Linked DNA regions of Homo sapiens: region 1 is linked to region 2. The links come from fine-mapping of genetic effects on gene expression. A gene starts in region 2. The other region holds a variant in brackets. All regions are shown on one strand. Distances are between the middles of the regions. Region 1 overlaps LMF1 (lipase maturation factor 1). Region 2 holds the start of LMF1 (lipase maturation factor 1).

Region 1 (11,160 bases), 120 kb after region 2:
GTCAGCACACACCTAGAGACACGGCCGCGTTCGTGGGTTGGAAGATACAACAACGTGGAGATGACAGGTCCTTCCAGATTGATGGACAGGTTTAATGCAATTCCTATTAAAAAAAAAACCCAGCAAGATGTGTTAATAGGTAAGGACAAGTCATCCCAAGTTTTCTATGGAAATGTAAAGGAGCAAAAATAGCTAAAACCATTTTGAAAGAGAACAAGGTGGAACGAATCAATCTACCCAGTTTCAAGACACAGAACTACAGTAGTCAACACAGTGTAGTATTGACAGAGGGACAGACATGCAATTCCATGGAACACAACAGAGAACCCACAAAGAGACCCAAACAAACATGCCCGGATGAGTTTTTTTTACAAAAGCGCAAAAGCAATTCCATGGACAAAAACAAAATCTTCGACCCACGTCTCACCCCACACAAAAATAACTCAAAACGGATCCTGGACTTCAACGTAAAGCATAAGACAATCAACTTTCAGGGCCAGGCATGGTGGCCCACATCTGTAATCCCAGCACTTTGGGAGGCCAAGGTGGGCAGATTGCTTGACCTCAGGAGTTTGAGACCAGCCTGAGCAACGTGGCAAAACCCCGTCTCTACTAAAAACACAAAAAATTAGCAGGGCCTGGTGGCACATGCCTGTAGTCCCAGCTACTCGGGAGGCTGAGGTGGGAGGATCACTTGAGCCTGGGAGGCAGAGGTTGCAGTGAGCCGAGATCACACCACCACACTCCAGCCTGGGCAACAGAGCGAGAGCCCATCTCAAAAAAAAAAAAACTTTCAGGAAAAAATAGAAGAAAATCTTTGGGATCTAGGGCCAGGCAGAGTCATTATACTTAAAGATGATCTGTGAAAGGAAAAATTAATTGAAATTCATTAAAATTAAAAGCATTTGCTCCATAAAAAGACCTGTTAAGAGAACAAAGATAATTTTTAAGCTACAGACAGAAAATATTTGCAAGTCACGTATCTGACAATAGTCTAAAATCTGGAATATGTAAAGAAGTTTCATAACTTAATACTAAAATAATCTTATTAGAAAATGAGCACAGAGACGTTTCACCAAAGAAGGTGCACAGATGACAGATAAGCTCAGGAGAAATGCCTGTCATTAGAGAAGCAAAAACCACCATAACACCACTGCACACCCATCCGGTACCATCACTGCACACCCATCCCGTGACACCACTCACACCGATCCCGTGACACCACTGCACACCCATCCCGAGACACCACTCACACCCATCCCGAGACACCACTGCACACCCATCCCGTGACACCACTCACACCCATCCCGAGACACCACTCACACCCATCTCGTGACATCACTGCACACCCATCCCGAGACACCACTCACACCCATCCCGAGACACCACTGCACACCCGTCCCGAGACACCACTGCACACCCGTCCCGAGACACCACTGCACACCCGTCCCGAGACACCACTGCACACCCGTCCCGAGACACCACGCACACCCGTCCCGAGACACCACTGCACACCCGTCCCGAGACACCACTGCACACCCGTCCCGAGACACCACTGCACACCCGTCCCGTGACATCACTGCACACCCGTCCCGAGACACCACTCACACCCGTCCCGTGACAACACTGCACACCCGTCCCGAGACACCACTCACACCCGTCCCGAGACACCACTCACACCCGTCCCGTGACACCACTCACACCCGTCCCGAGACACCACTGCACACCCCTCCCGAGACACCACTGCACACCCATCCCGAGACACCACTGCACACCCGTCCCGAGACACCACTGCACACCCGTCCCGTGACAACACTGCACACCCGTCCCGAGACACCACTCACACCCGTCCCGAGACACCACTCACACCCGTCCCGTGACACCACTGCACACCCGTCCCGTGACACCACTGCACACCCGTCCCGAGACACCACTCACACCCGTCCCGAGACACCACTCACACCCGTCCCGAGACACCACTGCACACCCGTCCCGTGACATCAGTGCACACCCGTCCCGAGACATCACTGCACACCCGTCCCGAGACACCACTCACACCCGTCCCGTGACACCACTCACACCCGTCCCGTGACATCACTCACACCCGTCCCGTGACACCACTGCACACGCGTCCCGTGACACCACTGCACACCCGTCCCGTGACACCACTGCACACCCGTCCCGTGACACCACTGCACACCCGTCCCGTGACACCACTGCACACCCGTCCCGAGACACCACTGCACACCCGTCCCGAGACACCACTCACACCCGTCCCGTGACACCACTCACACCCGTCCCGTGACACCACTCACACCCGTCCCGAGACACCACTCACACCCGTCCCGTGACACCACTGCACACCCGTCCCGTGACACCAGTCACACCCGTCCCGAGACACCACTCACACCCGTCCCGAGACACCACTCACACCCGTCCCGTGACACCACTCACACCCGTCCCGTGACACCACTCACACCCGTCCCGAGACACCACTGCACACCCGTCCCGAGACACCACTGCACACCCGTCCCGAGACACCACTCACACCCGTCCCGAGACACCACTCACACCCGTCCCGAGACACCACTGCACACCCGTCCCGAGACACCACTGCACACCCGTCCCGAGACACCACGCACACCCGTCCCGAGTCACCACTGCACACCCGTCCCGAGTCACCACTCACACCCGTCCCGTGACACCACTCACACCCGTCCCGTGACACCACTCACACCCGTCCCGAGACACCACTCACACCCGTCCCGAGACACCACTGCACACCCGTCCCGAGACACCACTCACACCCATCCCGAGACACCACTGCACACCCATCCCGAGACACCACTGCACACCCATCCCGAGACACCACTGCACACCCATCCCGTGACACCACTCACACCCATCCCGTGACACCACGCACACCCATCCCGAGACACCACTCACACCCATCCCGTGACACCACGCACACCCATCCCGAGACACCACTCACACCCATCCCGTGACACCACTCACACCCATCCCGAGACACCACTCACACCCATCCCGAGACACCACTCACACCCATCCCGAGACACCACTGCACACCCATCCCGAGACACCACTCACACCCATCCCGAGACACCACTCACACCCATCCCGAGACACCACGCACACCCATCCCGAGACACCACGCACACCCATCCCGAGACACCACGCACACCCATCCCGAGACACCACGCACACCCATCCCGAGACACCACTGCACACCCATCCCGTGACACCACGCACACCCATCCCGAGACACCACTCACACCCATCCCGAGACACCACTCACACCCATCCCGAGACACCACGCACACCCATCCCGAGACACCACGCACACCCGTCCCGAGACACCACTGCACACCCGTCCCGAGACACCACGCACACCCGTCCCGAGACACCACGCACACCCGTCCCGAGACACCACTCACACCCGTCCCGTGACACCACTCACACCCGTCCCGTGACACCACTCACACCCGTCCCGTGACATCACTCACACCCGTCCCGTGACACCACTCACACCCGTCCCGAGACACCACTCACACCCGTCCCGTGACACCACTCACACCCGTCCCGTGACACCACTCACACCCGTCCCGAGACACCACTCACACCCGTCCGGTGACACCACTCACACCCGTCCCGAGACACCACTCACACCCGTCCCGTGACACCACTGCACACCCATCAAAACGGCTGGAATAAAAGTAGCAACAACCCCACATGCTGGCAAAGATACCAAGAAATCGAGTCACTCGGCTGTTGCTGGGAGGGTAAAATGGCTCCTCAAAAAGGACACCCGAAGTTGCAGTGGACTCAGCAGCTGCTTCCATGGACGTTTAAGCCAGAGAGTTGAAACCCAGGTTCACGCAGAAACCCGTGCAGAGGTTTACGGCAGCCGTCACAGACAAAAACTGCAAAGAGCTCAGCTGTCCTTCCACAAGAGAGCGACCGCACAAACTAGGGTGCACTCACGCCGCAGACGCCGGTCAGCGACGAGGAGGAAGGAAGCCTCCATCACACGACCTGGCGGAACCTGAGAATTGGCGTGAGAATCGCCTGCCCCGCGGGTACGTGCCGCAGGGTTCCACTCATTCTTGAAATCATACGTTCTTGAAATCACACAAGGAGGCCGAAGGTCGGGGAGGGTGTGGAAGGACACGGGGGTCCGGGCGTGGATGGGACCCGTGTCTGTGGCCTCAGTGTCAGGCCCTGGCTGCAATCCCTACTATAGCTGTGCAAGATGCCCAGCTGTTGCCAGTAGGGTCTATTTCAAAAGGGCTGGGAGATCCCCTATTTTCAACACTCTCAAGCCCTCCGGGGCGGTGCCATGGCCTTCTCGGGTACTTTGTCTGCAGGAATGAAATGCAACCCTTCAGGCCGCTGGGGCCTGGGGCCCCTTCCCACCAACCTGCCAGTTGGCACAGAGGGTTCTGACCCTTTCCAAAACCCTTTCCAAACTGCAGTTCCAGCTCTTGATGTCAGAGACCAGGCCCTGGGCCCCCTAGGCCTTGACCCTGTCCTGGGAAGGAGCAGAAAGCAAGAGCAGGAATTTGGGAAAGATGGGCAATCCCACTGCAGGAGGCCTTCCCAGGATCCCCACCCTCCCGGCCTCACTAAATGCAGGGTTTGGGAGAGGGTGGGCCTGCCTGGGGACTGCATTGCCCTAGCAAGGCCCAGGAGAGTGTGCAGGGACCATGCTGCCCGCACAGCCCAGCGCCCTCACGGCCGCATTCCAGCCCGTCCCTTCAGTCTGCTGCTGAGCTGCTCAGAGGTCGACCTCGGGGTCCAGTGTGACTTCTCTGCCTGGCACCACCTGGCCTCAGTCCCCATGCTGGCCGCTGCCGTCCTTATAGCCAAGGAAAACCATGGCAGCCTCAGGCCCAAGGGGTCCAGGAAAGACCCCTGGGGCCCAGGGCAGTGGGCAGTGCCCTCCTGGAGTGGACGGGAGCCACCAACTGCCAGCATCACCCTCAGTCTTGGCTGCCCGGGAGGTTTTCCAAAGGCCCGACCCCACTCCTCTTGGAGCTGCTGATCCCTCTCTCCCATCAGGCGCCTCAGGGACCCTCCTCCACCCAGAGGGTCTCTGTCTTCCCGGTTTTCCTGGCGTAATTCAGACTTGGGGAGAGAAGAATCATCATCCATCACACACCCAGACCCAAAGAGACTCAAAGCCAGGAGGAGCCGGGTGGACCCAGAGGCCCTCACCCTGCCAGCCTAAGGGGCATGGCCCAAGGTCTCCACCCCCAGCCCCCAGAGCACAGCTGTGTGCAGGTCACCAGAAGCCCCAAATAATGACAGCAGCCCAGACAGTCGCTACCGGGCCCTGGTGCAGTGTGAAGCCTCTGGCACCTGCCTGGGCTCATTCCAGGGGCCATGAGAGGGTCCTGTTATGGCTGCACCATCACACCCACCGGGCAGCTGGGGCCCAGCTCTGCCATGGATCCCAGCCAGGCAGCAGCCGCCCTGTGGGCTGAGAAGCTTCCGCTCCTGCTGCACAACTGCGAAGGGGCCTGGAGGGCCGGGAGCTTGTGACGGTGACAATTCCTCCTGGCGCCTCCTCCTCCGGGGCAGCCGAGCAACCCTGGACATGAGGGGGCTTCGTCCCACCCCCAGGAGAAAATGCCCAGTCCTCCGAGAGTCCAGTGAGGGCTTGCCAGCCAGGGACCAAGACCCAGTATGGCCTAAACCAGGCCTGGTCACCAGGGGTCAGGCGGGACCTTATACAGGGCTCAGCAGAGAGACCTGCCCGCTACCCTGCTCCAGGGGAGATGGGGGTGGGGGCCTTCATCCCACTCGGGCATGACAGAGGAGAGCAGCCAGCCAGCATCTGCACGTCTCAGGCAGGGAAGGGCCTGAAGCCCTGGGAAGCAGAGGCTCCGCCCTCAGGAAACAGGTCCCGGCCTGGCTCCCTCACAGCCTCGGACTGCCCCGTGGACCGAAACCCCCAGGCACCTTGCGCCAGGACTGGCCTGATGGTGGAGA[C/T]GCCACACCATGAGCAGTAGGTTCCTCTCCCCACCTTCCCAGGCGGGGGACACTTGGGGCTCAAACTGGGGCCTTGTGAACGGTCTCAGGCTTGCTCAGTGCCACCCGTGAAGCTCCTGGCCTTCCCCGGGCCGGTCCCTCTGCCAAGTGGGCCCTGCTGGGTCTCCCCTCCCGGAGCTGCCCCCCGTCCGCCCTTCCCCCTTGCTGCGCTGTTCACTGCTGAGGGTGCCGACTGGAACAGTTGCCCTGCCCGGGGTCTGCTGGGGGTCTACCTGTGCTCAGGGTGGGGGCTCCTCATGCAGCCCCTCTGTCCGTGGGGGACCCTGTGAGCAGCTGCAGCTCAGCAGCAGGCTGAGGAGCCGGGTCGGGGGCCGGGAGTCCCAGCAGGCCCTGGGCTGACATGTGCCCCCTTGCAGGTGGGTCCGAGGAGAGCACTACAGGTACAAGTTCAGCCGTCCTGGGGGCAGGCACGCCGCCGAGGGCAAGTGGTGGGTGCGGAAGAGGATCGGAGCCTACTTCCCTCCGCTCAGCCTGGAGGAGCTGAGGCCCTACTTCAGGGACCGTGGGTGGCCTCTGCCCGGGCCCCTCTAGACGTGCACCAGAAATAAAGGCGAAGACCCAGCCCCTCGGCGGCTCAGCAACGTTTGCCCTTCCCTGCGCCCAGCCCAAGCTGGGCATCGCCAAGAGAGACGTGGAGAGGAGAGCGGTGGGACCCAGCCCCCAGCACGGGGGTCCAGGGTGGGGTCTGTTGTCACATACTGTGGCGGCTCCCAGGCCCTGCCCACCTGGGGCCCCACATCCAGGCCAACCCTTGTCCCAGGCGCCAGGGGCTCTGATCTCCCATCCATCCCACCCTCCTCCCAGAGGCCCAGCCTGGGGCTGTGCCGCCCACAGGAGTTGAGACAATGGCCATCCTGACACCTTCCTCCACTACAGCCCTGACCATAGACCCAGCCAGGTAGCTCTTGGGGTCTCTAGCGTCCCAGGGCCTGGTTTCTGTTCCCTCTTCAATGGTGTGTTCCCAGCCAGGTCCTGACCCTCAGAGCCAAGTCCCTGTCACGTCTGGGGCAGCCAAACCCTCGCCCCACAGGGACCTGGACACGCCCGGCCAGGATGTGGGGTTGGATGGGCCATTTTCTGTCCTATCCCTCATCTCCACCCCCGCCACAGCCTACACGCATCCCACACATGCAGGCACACACAGCCTGTGCACACATGTGTTCTTGGCCCGGTTTCATCCCCCCATGACTGGTGTCTGTGAGGTGCAGATGGACACAGCGCACACCCAGACCCTCCACCAGGCTGTGACCTCGCTGCCTCTGAGGCCTTGACAAGGCCCCTCAATCGGAGGACAGCCGGCCGTGCACACTTTCATCATCGTCGGACAAACAGCGTCTACTGCACATTTTTCTTATTCCTATTCTTGAGCCATAGCTATGGCATATTCTTCTACTATTCCTATTATACCACTTACCAGCTTACTCGAAAACACACTGTTTAAATGAAGAAGTTCTTGTACCTCCCTCCCCTTGGCGGTGGCCGTGCCCCCAGCCCACACTCTGATGCTGGGGCAGCGGGTGACCGAGCGGGAGCTTGATGGAGAGGTGAATGGGTGGTGCTTTGCCTGGCGACCCTTCCAGTGTCTGCTGCGGCAATACTTGGAGTAAATGGGAATGAGCAGGGGTGCCAGCCCTGCCGGAAGGAGGCAAAGCTCTGGGGCAACGTCCCCCACCCAGGACGCTGTGAGGCTGGGTCCTGGGAGAAGTCAGAAGTGGGCCCCACCATAGGACAGAGGCCCTCCCCTCTCCCCCAGCCTGGGGGGGCGGTTCCCCCACCCACCCCTTCCCCCTGCCTCCATCCACGGCACCTGGAGCCATGATGCCCACGGCTGAGCCACTGTGGGGGGCCCCAGTGGGGACAACACGGTGGTTCAGGCCGAGGAGGGCGGCTGCGGTAGGCACAGTGTGGGTCTGTGTGGAGCCCCCCCTCGGCCTGCCCGGGGGGGACAGCCAGCCCAGGTGCCAACAGAGGGCCCGTGTTCCAGCTCCCGGGGAAACAGGGCGCCCTGTGTCTGTGGAGGGACAGACAGGGCCTCAGAGGGACGCACCAGGAGCCAGCAAGTCTGCCGGAGCGACCACGCGGAGCTGTCGGCCACAGGGGCCTGGGCGGCCCTTCCCGGGGGGCTGTCCCAGGGACTCTGCTGTTGGTGGGGCCCAGCCCTGTGGCACAGCTCAGGGGCGGACATCTCAGGCAGCGGCAGTTGTGGGAACCCGAGGGACCCATCGCCTGGGAAAGGCTGGTGCCACGGGGTGCCCCTGCCCAGCCTCTGCAAGGGGGAGACCTGAGGAGCCAACAGCCCTCCATGCCCCCTGCCCGGAACCCTCCCGTGCGGCTGTCCTCCCCGTAGTGGGTCCCGAATCCCACAGCCCCTCCTCCCGGGCTCCTTCACCCCGCTCCAGGCTCCTCTTGTCCCAGGGCAGCTGTGCACCACTGGTCTCCCGGGGACCCCGTAGTGGGGCTGCAGGTCCTGGTCAAGGGGGGCAGGGCAGGAGCCCACAGCAGTAGTGACTGGGCACCCCGTTCATGGGACCCACAGCCCAGAGACTCCGCAGCACTGTCCTGGGACCACGGGAAGGGCCTGCAAGAGCCCTGGAGCAGACACCCTCATCCTCCGTTGGGGATGGCAGCTGTGACTTCCCAGGGGACCTGGGGGTGGGGTCACAGGGCATGTGGGGTCAAGTCACACAGCATGAAGTGGACCAGGGCCGTCATTAAGCGAACAGTTTGTGGTGTGGAGTGCGCTCCCGAGGCCGTGCATCCACCTCCCCTCCATCCAGCCCATTTCCATCTTCCAGACAGAGCCTCTAGCCCCAGGGAATCCATCTCATGCCTCTGTGGGTCCCTGTTCGGGACCCTTCATATAAACGGAATCACGGGCCTCAGCCCTCCCATCGGGCATGTCAGCTTCTTCCCTCACGTCTGAACTCTCCACAGAGTCTGTGCGAGACGCCCAGCCCCCGGCTGCCTGTGTTCTGTGTGACGGAGGGTCCCACCTGCCGGTGTGGGGCAATGGGGCCAGTGGCCCCGACACGTGTCAGGCCGATGCCTGTGGTCAGGAAGTCCCCTGGGGGCGGAGGCCTGGGCATCTGAAGGGGTGCTCGGGGTGGGAGTCATGGTGTGATCTGCCCTCCCCATCTCGGCCAGCCTCGGGGGCCTGTCACTGTGGAAGGCAGGTCTGCTACCACCTCTGGGTACCCCACCAAGGTCACAAAAATAGGGGGGCCCCTGGACCCAGCTGGGGGCCTCGAGGGCCCACTCCATGGAGCCCTTGGCTCTGACCCGTGAGTGTCCAGCCCTGCTCAGGGAGACCCCCTCAGCTGGCAGGCAGAGGAGCCCTAATGGTGGGGGTCCAGTCTCTGGATCCAGGTTCCCAGAGACGTCCACTCACCTGGGGCGGACAGGTGACCTGAGGTCGGGTTGTGACAGCCTCGGCTGGAGTGGAGCCTGCACCCTCTGCAGACCCAGAGTCTGTCACACCTGACCCTTCCAAGGCTGGGTTCCCCTCACCTCATCTGTCTTTGGCAGATAGTCCCAAGGCCTCACCACACTGAGCCCATCTCCCCCAAACGTCTGGGGTCCCTGTGTGGTCAGGGCCGTGGGGCCTTTACACTAGCAACCAGTGCCAGCGCCCACACGGCAACCCCCTGGCTCTCCAGGGCCTGCTCTGCGCCCTGACACTAAGCTGCCCCAGTCCCGCACCAGGCCCTCAGTGTGGGTCTGCTGGGTCAACTGTGGGCCTGGGGGAAGGGAGAGGCACCCTGGAGTCCCCAGAGCAGCCTCCCTGGCTGGGTCAGGCCCTCAGCCATTCTCACTGCAGCTTGGAGGTCTCAGACTGCCCAGGTCCTCATCTGAGCAGGAAGGTTTGGGAGAATGGCAGCTTTGGAGCTTCAGATCAGCAACACACAAGAATACCACAGACGGCAGCAGCTGGCCCACAGTGGCAGAAAAGAAAGCTCCCTCGTCAAAACAGTATCACAGCAGCATGGAGACCTAGAGATAAACGGGGCACAGTAACCACCCGAGAAATCGTCCCACATGCGGCCAGGTACCGCCCAATGAGAACAACACGAGAAATCGTCCCACACACACGGCCAGGTACTGTCCGATGAGAACAACCCGAGAAATCATCCCACATGCGGCCAGGTACCGTCCGACAAGAACCCGAGAAATCGTCCTACACACGGCTAGGTACCTTCTGACGAGAACGGCCAGAGAAATCGTCCCACATGTGGCCAAGTACCATCCGACGAGAACAACCCAATAAATCGTCCCACACACGTGGCCAGGTACCTTCCAATGAGAACAACCTGAGAAATCGTCCCACGCATGCGGCCAGGTACCTCTGACGAGAACAGCCCGAGAAATCGTCCCACACGCAGCCACGTACCTTCCAATGACAACAACCCGAGAAATCATCCCACACACGGCCACATACCTTCCGACGAGAACTAGGTACCTTCCGACAAGAACAACCCGAGAAATCATTCCACACATGCAACCAGGTACCTTCTGACAACAACAACCACAGAAATCATCCCCCACGCGGCCAGGTACCGTCCAACGAGAACGACCAGGTACCTTCCGACAAGAACAACCAGGTACCTTCCGACGAAAATGACCCGAGAAATTGTCCCACATGCAGCCACGTACCTTCCAATGAGAACAACCCGAGAAATCATCCCACACACGGCCACATACCTTCCAACGAGAACAACCAGTACCTTCCGATGAGAACAACCAGGTACCTTCCGATGAGAACAACCCGAGAAATCATTCCACACATGCAACCAGGTACCTTCTGACAACAACGACCCAAGAAATCGTCCCACACGCAGCCAGGTACCTTCCAACGAGGACAACCAGGTGTCTTCCGACAAGAACAACCAGGCACCTTCCAACGAGAACAACCAGGTACCTTCCGATGAGAATGACCCAAGAAATTGTCCCACACGTGGCCTGGTACCTTCCGACAAAGGCTCTGAGACCATTCAATGGGAAGAGGACAGCCTTTTCAGCAAATGGTACTGGGAAAGCTTTATCTCCACATGCAAAATAATGAATGAAGCTGGCCCCTTACCTAACAGCATA
Region 2 (11,160 bases):
TTGGCAGCGTCCTGGCACGGCCTGGGAGATTAATTGGTGCTTTTAATGACGGCTGGTCTGGCAGAGACAGAGTGACTACAGGCTGGGCCGGCGCAGGCTGTGAGCAGAGGCTGGGAAAGGCCCCGCCCCCGGACGGGTCTCCAGGGGAGAGGAGGGGTTCGCAGGACCCCTCTCAAGACCCCCTTCGGGAGTCAGCTTCTTGGCCACGCACACTTGGAGCTCTGGGCTGGGTTGCAGCTCCCTGTACTTCACTGTCTCGGGTGCTGGCAGTGCCAGCTGGGGCACGAGTTCCGGTTTGGGTCAAGGCTGGCCTGTTGGCTGGGGTGGCGTCTGCCTGAGAACTGGCCTTGTCTGTGCCTTAAGCTTCCTGGCGCTCACAGGGCAGTGGAAAACCACTCAGTGAGTCTTTCTTGGCACCTTGCAGGAGCAGTGCTTTCTGGGCCTCTGTAGCCAGAGCTGGCCCTGCTGCAGCTTACGTCTGCCTGCAGCCCAGACGTCCTCCTGGTCCTCCTGATGCCCCCGACCTCCACGGAGGACGAGCATTTCCAGCCCAGCCCTCCCCATCTTCACCTCGCACTCCCCTGACACACTGGGAGCCTCCTGATCCGTGAACCCGCGCTGGCGGGAGTAGCTACTGACCGCTGGGGACCCCTGCCCAGGCTGTTCGCATGTGGAAAGGATTCAGGGAGCAGGCGATGCCCAAAGCGTGGAGACCAGCACTGCTCTCTCCCCAGTGACAGGTGCACGCCCAGATCACGGATGTGTCGGGAACAGCTGTGCTCCTGCTGCTCAGCGTCCGTCACTCCAGGCTGGGAGCGGGTCCCCAAGCTTCTGGCTGGGCCTATCCGTCTCCACTCTCAGTGTGGGGGTGGGGGGCGCCAACAGCACGCATTTGCTCTCTGCACTTCTCGTCTGATAATGGGCAGAGGGTCCTTCTGCAGCCCCAAAACATCCCTAGGCAGGAGCCCTGGGGCCCCAAGCAGCCAGGGAGGTGAGCACCAAGGACCTCCCAGAGAGCGTCACCTTCCGTCGAGGGAGGCCCAGCCTGGGGGCGGTGTCTGAGACTTGGAATCAACGCTTCCGTTGGTGGCAGTAAATCCTGTCCCTAACCCTGCAGTACAGCTGTGCCGTGTACAGGAGGGTGCTGTCTGACGCCAGACACCTGGACTACAGATCGCAGCCTGATTCCTGGTCATTGCTCCACTGAACCCCAGACCCCAGCCTCGTTCTGGGCCCTCATCCCCTAGATCCAGGGACCCCAGCCCCATTTCAGCCCTTGGGCCCTTGTAGGATGCGAGGCCCTGGGCCCCAGCCCCCAGCCCATCCGTGGCCCAGGCACTGGGGGGCTGAGGTCCTCTGAGAAGGGACACAGGGCCTGGGGGGCTCTCTCAGCCCATCAGCAGGAGAGGACTGACTCCAGAAAAATCAGCGTTTGTACCCACTCAGGCTGCCAAGACCTGTGTCCGTCCTTCCAAGCTCAACCTTCAGAGTTCATGAGGCCCCTTGCCCAGAATGTCCACAGAGTTCATGAGGCCCCTTGCCCGGAATGTCCACATTTGAAACCTCCCAACACCGAGCCCCATTTCAAGTATAACCAGGAGGGAAAATGGTGCTTGAAATAAGCATGCCACAAAGGAAAACCTGCTTTCTCGAAATGGGCCCTGGCCGCCCAGGCCCTGACCTCCCCGGCCAGGATGGAACGTTCCAGAGACCCATTAGTGCCAAAGGCAAATGAAAACACACCCTGTGAAAATGTCTCTGCTGTCTCCCAAGTATTTATTTTTCTGAGCGTGGGGAAGGAAGGCTTAATTAAGATGCCCTCAGGCGGGTACGAGGGGCAAAGTGGGAGCAGGGAGCGTGCTTCCTCTGTGGCCTTGGTTCAGACAACAGCCTTCAGCAAAGCTTTGCTCTAGAGGCTCATAGGAAGGGACAGAGGGCACAGGCCCAGCTCAGCCTTTCCCCTGCCTTTCTTGGGGCCTGGGCATGGACAGCACCGCCTGGCGACACACAACGGTGGGCTCTGAGGCTGTTTGTTACGCAGCATTAATGTGGCCGTCGGTGACCGCTACACGGTGACTGATAACTGCACTGTGGGTAGAGCTCAGCCCGCAGGGCTCTGGTTTGTGACCTCTGGGCCAGGCAACTCTCAAGGCTTCTTCCAGTGCAGAATATGATTCCTAGAGAAAAAAAAAAAATTACACATTCGTTTCCTAACATAGGGCCCTGCAACCGGAGAACACCACCACATTGGGAGCTGTGCTTTCCACTGTCTAGAAACCATGGCTTGCCAGCTTGCAGGGTCACATGGAGCCGCATCTCCTTCTGGGGTGCAGGGGTGGGAACACTCGTGACCTGTAGCCGAGGGTGCAGGGAGAGGACAGGGTGAGCCAAGCAGAACAGCCGTCTGTGAGTCATCGTCCCAGGACAACCAGCAAATGGCACAACACCTGCTCTCTCAGCCCCCACCCGCACCTGCCAGCCTCACGTGGGGGGTGGGGGGGTTGGCCGCTGGACAGTCACAGCAGGATCTGCCCAAACTGACCACCCTTCCAGGAGGAGGCAACAGATGTTAGCATCCACGGGTCCTGGGCCCCCCTTCCATACCCAGACTTCAGGACATGAAAAATTGGGGTAAATGAAGGGTGCACGATTATCTTCGGGCCCACACTGGCTTCCTGCGGGTGCCAGAGACAGCTGCCACCGCATGCCAGGGACAATGGCCCCGAGGAGGCGGGAGCTGCCAGGCCGGGGTGCTGGGGGACAGCTGGACGAGGTGCCGACAGGGGCTCATTCCTCCCTGAAGCCGGCCCGCAGCTGCTGGGAGCGTGGCCAGCCACGGGCTTGTGTGTGCCTGGGTCCTGGGGGCTGTGCTGGCGCAGGCCGGGACGGCGGGGACAGGGTCCCACCTAGGGCAGGCTGGTCGGTCTCCGGGGAGGCAGCCCAGTCTTCAGCCTGCGTGCTCTTGGGGTGTCCGTCCCTTCCTCCCCATTCTCCTCCTCTTCTCAGCGTCTTCTCCCCCAGCACCGGGCAGCCCTGGGGTGGCCGAGCCTCATCTCCACTCCCCTCCCTCAGGCCTCTCCTGGGTCAGCCTGGCTTTTTCTCTTAGAGTTTTTGCTTGACAGGGCACTCTCAGGACGCCCTCCTCCTCCTCCCGCCTCGGGTTGGTGTGAGGCGCTCAGGGCAGGGCCCACGTGCCTGTGGTCACAGGACACTGAGCTGCAGGGTGAAAGGACCACACCTGGCCGATCTCCCGGCCGCTGCAGCTCACTCTGGGTTTGCAGAGAAGCCTGTTTTTAAGTGAAGTGCCTTCTTAGAGAATAAGACACACCTGTATCTAAATGTTATTTTTAAACTGCTAGATGCGCCTTAATATAGACAAAGAAGTAAGGTGAGCGTAAATGACATGATGTATTCCGACAGGTGACAGCGCCTTCCGGGCGATTCTGAAACACCAGTGCAGGGCTGTCTGTTGTCTTTTGTTTTCATTTTACTTTTTTTTTTTTTTTTTGAGACAGAGTCTCGCTCTGTCGCCCAGGCTGGAGGGCAGTGGCACGATCTCGGCTCACTGCAAGCTCCAGCCCCCGCGTTCACGTCATTCTCCTGCCTCAGCCTCCCGAGTAGCTGGGACTACAGGCGCCCGCCACCATGCCCGGCTAATTTTGTTGTTGTTGTTGTATTTTTAGTAGAGACGGGGTTTCACCGTGTTAGCCAGGATGGTCTCGATCTCCTGACCTCGTGATCCACCCGCCTCGGCCTCCCAAAGTGCTGGGATTACAGGCGTGAGCCCCGGTGCCCGGCCTCATTTTACTTTTCTAAAATTCGAGGCGAAATTCACATAGCATGAAATAAGCCATTTGCCAGTGAACGACTCGGTGTTTAGCACCTCACAGTGCTGGGCAGCCATCGCCTAGTTCCAGAAGATTCTCATCAGCCCAAAAGAAAACGTCCTACCCCCGGACCACTGGCTCCCCACTCCCCGTCCCCAGACCTGGACCACAGAGCTCCCTCCTTTCCCCGTGGCTTTGCCCACCCCGGACATTTCATGTAAATGGGCTCACGCAACTCATGACCTCCGCGTCTGTCCTGTCCCACTGAGCTTGATGTTCTGAGGTTCATCTGTGTTGTAGCACGTGTCAGAACTGGATTCCTTTTTATTTTATGTTTTATTTTAGTGAGACAGAGTCTCGCTCTGTGGCCCAGGCTGGAGTGCAGTGGCGCGATCTAGGCTCACTGCAACCTCCACCTCCCGGGTTCAAGCGATTCTCCTGTCACAGTCTCCCGAGTAGCTGGGATTACAGGTGCCCGCCACCACACCTGGCTAATTTTTTTGTATTTTTAGTAGAGGCGGGGTTTCACCATGTTGGCCAGGCTGGTCTTGAACTCCTGACCTCAGGTGATCCACCTGCCTCGGCCTCCCAAAGTGCTGGGATGACAGGCGCCCGGCTCCTGGATTCTTTTTGATGGCTGAATCATAACCCAGTGCACTTTTGATTAAATTCAGGCTGAAATGGGCACGACCAGAGCTGCTGGTCCACCTCTCCCCGGCCCAAGCCCTGCCCCCGGTGACCTGCTCTGGAGCCATTCTGGGCAGTGGATGGGACCCCTGCGGTCAGCGTCTCAAGAGAGCAGACCCTGAGGGAAACTTGAGCTCAGAGAGAACAGGAGCTCCCAGCAGACCCTTCCGCTGACTGCTCCCACCCTGGGCAAATGCAGAGCCGGAGCCCGGAGCGCTGGAAGCTGGAACAAGAGGCCCTTTTCTGCTCTGCACAATGCCCCATTGTGCCCTTCGCGGGGAGAGCAGCTCGGCCCAGCGAGGGGAAGCTGTGCACAAAGCCTCCTTGTGAGGGCAGCCCCACCTGAGGACAGCGCAGGGCCACACCTGACGCAGGGCAGTCCCTCTCGCCGTCCGTCCCCTAGCAGGCCTGGCACCCAGACAGGGCCCGCTCTGCAGGCGTGGTCCCAGGGTGTGGGGCTCCCTGTTCCCCACAGATGAGGGGAACAGTGTGGGCTGTGCCGGCCCTTCCTAAGCTGGCCCCCAGGTCACGAGGAGAGGTACGGGTCGTGGGCTCTGTGGAGGGACTTGGGTGCCGGGCGCCAGCCAGGGCCGATGCCTCCTGCGATCCCCAAGGCTCCGAGCCCTCAGGCACACACCACGCTCCCGGAGGCTGGGCCAGCATGCGGAGGATGTTTGTGTGTTCGTACCCGTTGCAACATCTTTAACAGGGTCCCATTTCACAGCTGGGCTCCTAAGGGGGGTTTCATAGAAAAGAAATGGAAACTAAAAATGAATTAAACCATAAGATGTACACGTATGCTACGGCCCCAGCAACACAGGGAAGGTGGAGGCTGAGAGGAAGCTCGGGCCACTGCTGGTCAGGCCTGGATTTGGGGGCCCGATGTCCACAGTCAGTCCCTGCCCACACAAGGCTCACACTGCAGGTGGTGAAGATATAATTAAACAGGTAATTAAACAAGCAATAAAGACGGGTCATTTGACCAACCCAGTGGCGATAATTGATACGCCAAAACACTAGGAAAGCTAGAGAGGCAAAAGAGAAGAATACATGAAAACAAAAACAAAAAACCAGGACAAATATTTCCAATATACACAAAAGAACAGGATTTTTCATACGTAAAGAGTGCTGACAAATGAATAAGGAGAAATCTGCACTTCCACCTAAGTGCCCCACAGTTTATTCACTAACCCCTAGGTCTCCAATGCCTACTCTAGCCTCACGCCCTTTCTTTCCTCTAAGGAATGCCTGTGACCCCAGCCCTTCCTAGCACCCGCTTCACATCAGCCTCCAGAACCCCGCTCCAGTCATCAGAGTGTAGAGTGCTGGCGTCCTCCTTCATGTTCTGTTTGGGGCATTGGGCAGTTAGCCCTTCCCTCCTGAGTCCTGAGTCCCCCTCTTCCCCCACAGCTTGAAGTCCAGTCCCAAGGGCAGGCAGGAGCTGGGTTGTGCAAAGGCGGAAGGGTGCTCAGGCTGGGAGAAAGGGGAGGGTCCCCCGAGCATTCCAGGCACAGCCCTGCCTACTCTGTCCCTTGCTGGCTGCGACGATCGCCCTAGCACCCTCCTCCGCAGAGAGTGAGTGTCAGCTGTGAGGCAGGGGCACGCAGTGGTAGCACCGCCAGGGCCTGTGCAGCCCACCTTCCCCAGGACCACAGCTGGGAAGGCGCCTGGCTGGGGGAGGGCACCTGGCCTCTGCAACTCGGACTGACGGAAGGCACGCGTGCCTGCCCCAGTGAGCTCGGGTCGGGCGACGCGCACCACCTCCCAGGTACCCGGCCCCGCGCCCTACCCGCAGCAGCGCCCAGCGAGAACTGCGAAGGAGGCAGGCTCCGGGCACCCGCTCCCGCGCGTGGGCGGGGCCGGCTGGAGGGGGCGGTGCCTCCGGGACTGTGAGCGGGGCCTCCCGGGGTGTGGGTGGGGCCTTCGGCCGTGGGCAGGGCCGGCCAGGGAGAGGCGGGGCCTCCGAGAATGGGCGGGGCCTCCGAGAATGGGCGGGGCCTCCGGGAGTGCGCCCTCCCCGCACATGCGCCCTGACAGCCCAACAATGGCGGCGCCCGCGGAGTCGCTGAGGAGGCGGAAGACTGGGTACTCGGATCCGGAGCCTGAGTCGCCGCCCGCGCCGGGGCGTGGCCCCGCAGGCTCTCCGGCCCATCTCCACACGGGCACCTTCTGGCTGACCCGGATCGTGCTCCTGAAGGCCCTAGCCTTCGTGTACTGTGAGTGCCGGGCGGGCCCGGGACATCCGCCAGTGTCACCTCCGCGCACCACGACCCCCGCCCTCCCTCGAGACTCCTCCGCGCGGTCTCGCGGCCGCGGCGCCCCCACGCAGCCCTCCTTCCTGCTGGGGCCCGGGCAAGGCGGGGCGGGCAGGGCAGGACAAGGCTTGCTGGCGACAGCGCACCCGGCCCTACCCCTGTCGCCGCCTCGAGCCTCCGGCCTGGGCTCCTGGGCTCCCGGTTCCACCCGCAGCCCCGAAGTTGCACGGCCGCGCCTGCCAGGACCGGCTCGGGGCTATGCGAGGCGGGGCCGGCCCGGGCCCTGGCCCAGGAGTTCCCAGGAGAGCTGGGCAGGTGGAGGGTCACCCGTCCGTGCGCAGGTCGGGGGTCTGCGTCCTGGCTGCGGGGCGGGGGGCGGCCTGGAGAGGCGAGGCGCTCCTGCTGTCCCCGACACAGCGCTGTGCTGACGGTGAAGGTTCCCACTGTAACTGGACGCCCGCACGCCACATCCCTGCCGCGTGCGGCCCCTGCCAAAATCCGAGGAGCCGGCCCGGGAGCCTCCTTCGCGTCTCCCAGGGGCTGAGGGAAGGTGACTGGCTGGTGGCCAGACTGGAGTTTCTCCTTTAGTGTTCTCGACTAGCTCAGTCTGCGTTCGGGAAGATTCCCAGCGGAGGTCTGGGGGCAGCTCCGGAACCTCATCTGCAAGTGAAGCCTGCGCCTCACTGTGGGATGTGGTTGGCCGGGTCCACTGGCGGAGACCCTTCACCCCACAGCTGTGCGGGGCCCGCGTGCGCAGCCTACAGAGCAGAGCTCTGAGAAAAGTCAGTTCACGCTCAAAACCTCTGGATCCCCTGGCCAGGGGCAGCTGGCGATTCCAACTCCCTCTCTCCCCAGTCCCTACAACCCAGAACTGGTTTGGAAGAGAACGGTTCTGTGATCACGGTGACATGTGATCACACGGATACATGTTTCATAAGCCCAACGTGTCAGGAGCTACGAACCTCAAGTGAGGCTCTCAAATGAGTATGGAAGTGAGGGGAGCCTGCCAGGCCGAGATGCAGCCAGCGGGGCGCGTGGGCAGTCACCGTCCCAGAGGGCTCCGGAGCTGCTGGCCCCGGGCGTTGCCCACGCGTTGGTTGTAGGCCGTGGGCATTGGACGTCTCCCTTTCCTTCCATCGTCTGCTTCCCTCACGTGTGGAAGGAAAGGGTCAGGTTGCAGAAGTTCTTCTTTGCACAGCCTTTGTGCCACACACGTCGCGGGAAGTTTGGTAGCCTGGTTGTGCTGGAGTGATGCTCAGTTCGACGTTTTGTGTGACATTTGTGTGATACTTTCCACCTCCTGGTGCAAAGTGATGAGACGCGCTCATCACTACAAGGTTTCCTGTGGGATTGCAGTATCGGCTTCAACTGGGTCTGTGTCTCTCTCTCTCTTTCTTTAAAGCAACTATTTTATTTTATTTATTTATTTTTTTCGAGACGGAGTCTCACTCTGTTGCCCAGGCTGGAGCGCAACGGCACCATGTCGGCCCACTGCAACCTCCGTCTCCTGGGTTCAAGCGATTCTCCTGCCTCAGCCTTCCGAGTAGCTGGGATTATAGGCACGCACCACCATGCCTGACTAATTTTTAAAAATATTTTTAGTAGAGACAGGGTTTCACCATGTTGGCCAGGCTGGTCTCGAACTTCTGACCTCAGGGCCTCCCAAAGTGCTGGGATTACAAGCGTGAGCCACTATGCCCGGCCTGCAATTATTTTAAAAAGTAGTTCTTCCCAGGTTGCTTTTCCCTCCACAGTATTAAACAGTCATTTTAAATGTTGGTGCTGTCACTTAGCAAACGATGAAGTAGAGATAAAGTGAAGCTGTGAGGCTCTAATAGGCCTTCCACAGGGGAGCCCGAGATACAGCAGGAAGTCCCAGCGGCCTTGCCTCCGGAGCACAGCTTCATAAAACCAGCTCAGACTCTTTCAAACGAGCTGAGGCTCCTTTGATCTCCGCAGGGATTCTCTGTTCAATTCAGAAGGAACTGCTTTTAAGCCACTGGGTCAAGCGGATATTTTAAGCCTGGTGCCCAGCATTGAACATTTCTCCTTGACATATGCACGTTCTTCTGTCTTGTGAGTACATTTGGGGTAGAATCAGTGTTTTTCTGCTGTATCAAGGAACCAGTTTCCCATCTTTCAGGGACATGGTTTTCTGGCTGAGCTGGCCCAGGGCAAGCAGGCAGTCATCCTGCATTTATCTCCTTCTAGAAAGTTCTGGATTTTACTGGGACTGTGCGCTACTCCCTGTTCCTCAGAATCCCAGGGTTTTTCCAAGTTGCCATAGGGGCTCTCCAAATATTTCACTTGATACTGAATTTTACAATGTTTATAGCTATTGAAACACTTGTAATTAAACACATAACCAAATGTATTCTGTGGAAACTCCCCTTGTTAAAAGACATTGAACTGAGGGAGGCTTACCCTTAGGCAGATTGTCTCAGCAGACATGTAGTAAAGATGTACAGATCAGGAGAACACAGAAACGCCTGCCCTGTCGGGGAAGCTTCGAAGCCAGACCTGGAGAGGCCGGCTGCCAGCGACAGGCCTCTGCATTCAACCTGACTTTGCATCCGTCCTGGGGCTGGCTCCTTCCCACCGCGGGCCTGGGCGTTTCCATGTGCTGCCACCGAGGTGTGTAGGTGCTAGGGGTGTGCTCACTGCACACAGACGTGCATACCGCGGGCGTCCTGGGGTGTCGGGCATGCCCTGCTGTGCTGTGGGAGCCGGAGTGTGTTAGCGGAAAGCGGCATTTTCACAGGGCTCAGAGTTGAAGACACACCTGTCTTCCTGACGTGTGGACTCGGGTCCCTAGTGTGATTACTGCGTTGAGCAGATGCTGAAGTAGCACCCTGCCCGGTGCTGACCTCCTGGTGACAACGCCACTACCCCCAGTGGACAGCGAGGAAGCAGGGTCAGCCACTGGCCCGGCTGTGCAGCGATTGTCCGTAGGCCCTGGAGTTCAGCCCTGCCCTTCATTCACGCCACTGTGCAGCCTGCGTATCCTGGACACCCGGTTCACATCTGGGCAGCGGCGTTCTCGGGCCGTGACGGCTCCTGGGAGGACCGAGGCTGCCCGAGGTGGTCGGGGATGCCTGACACTGACACTGAGCTTCCCCTCAGCACAGATGTCACTCCCAGGAATGGCTGAAATCTGGACGAGTAAAAGCTTATGTGACAGGAGTTTCCGGCCTAAGCAGCGGGACCTGGGTGCCATGTTCTTGGTGTGTAGGGGCAGTGCCGGCCGCCCATGGGTGCCGGTGCCTCCTGCAGTCAGGCCTGCTGCTGTCTGTGTGCGCAATAAGGAAACCGAACCCAAGAGTGGGCACCATGCCCAGGCTCACCGGAACAGAGGGCAGAGCAGCCTGGCCAGAATCCCTCACTGTTTTATGGCAGGAACCCCCAGGGTCGTGCGTCGACGTTGTGGCCCGGCGTTCCCTGCGGAAGATTGAGGCCCTCACTGGTCAACCCTGCAGTACGGGGGCGTGTGTGGCAAACAGCTGGTCTGGAGCCTCGTCAGCCAGGCCGGCTCCTTGATGCTTTGAAATCCCCCTCCCAGGGGGCCTGGCCAGGTCCGTCCATGGGCGGCCACAGGCAGCTGGGGCTGGACTCCTGGAATTTCCAGCAGCCCTGTGTCTGTTACAGCGCCAGTGGTAGAGCTGGATTCCCTGACAAGACGGGGGAAGGACAGCCTTGCAGGTGCTACTGAAGACACCCTAGGCTAGAGCTGCCCACCCTGGGTGGGTTCTCCTGGACTGAACTGACGTTGGTTTGCTATTGATGAGAGTCACATAGTATATGTACACAATGCATTTTAACTGCCTCAGAATTAAGGTGTTATCTGGAAACAGTGTAATTACAGTTGGTCAGAATTGGGTTGATAGCAGTTCACTGCAGAGAACTTTCTGGAAGCTGTGACAGGTGGAAGTAGTGGGGCTCAGGGTTGGTGGGCCACACCTTAGCTGTGTGGCCTTGGCCAAGTTGCTCATCAAGACCTTCCTGTCACTGATGAGGTGAGAGTGACCGCTGGGCCGTCCTGAGGCTGACATGGGATTCCTTGCCTGTGCACACTTCCCAGAAGGCGGACCAAGGACACACCCGCCTGGGAGACGGCTCGCAGGCAGCCACGGAGTATATATATCTGAACGTCGGAAAGGACCTTTCCTTTGAAGCTCAAACATTTATGAGATATTGTTACAATTCGGAAGGGATCTGTAGGTGAAATGTGACATGAAGACTGGGTAACGTTGGCATTTGCAGACTGACTTTATGTGTGGCACTTTTCGTGGGTGCCATGGCGTCGGCGCAGAGACACTCCTGAGGGATTTCGTCTGTCGGTCCATGTGTTTGTGGGGGCCGAGTCCTGGACAGGCCTAGGAGGGAACCGCCCC

What was found.
Region 1: its variant is fine-mapped to the expression of LMF1 in whole blood (TOPMed, PIP above 0.99).

What each region holds. Positions count from the first base shown.
Region 1 is chr16:849,975-861,134 of GRCh38, reverse strand. It overlaps LMF1 (lipase maturation factor 1), which reads left to right. Exons shown (of 11, transcript NM_022773.4): 11 at 6,429-7,501. The coding sequence ends at 6,603. Among named protein-coding and RNA genes, the nearest start is that of GNG13, 55 kb to the right of the region's middle. The variant C/T (reference allele first, on the strand shown) is at 6,013.
Region 2 is chr16:966,358-977,517 of GRCh38, reverse strand. LMF1 (lipase maturation factor 1) reads left to right here and starts at 6,534. Exons shown (of 11, transcript NM_022773.4): 1 at 6,534-6,730. The coding sequence starts at 6,538. It overlaps CEROX1 (cytoplasmic endogenous regulator of oxidative phosphorylation 1), which reads left to right. Exons shown (of 3, transcript NR_164343.1): 3 at 425-1,757. It overlaps LOC124903620 (a long non-coding RNA gene), which reads right to left and starts at 3,449. Exons shown (of 2, transcript XR_007064935.1): 1 at 2,907-3,449; 2 at 1,760-2,177. RefSeq lists enhancers at 4,365-5,355, 7,338-8,329 and a silencer at 6,123-7,292.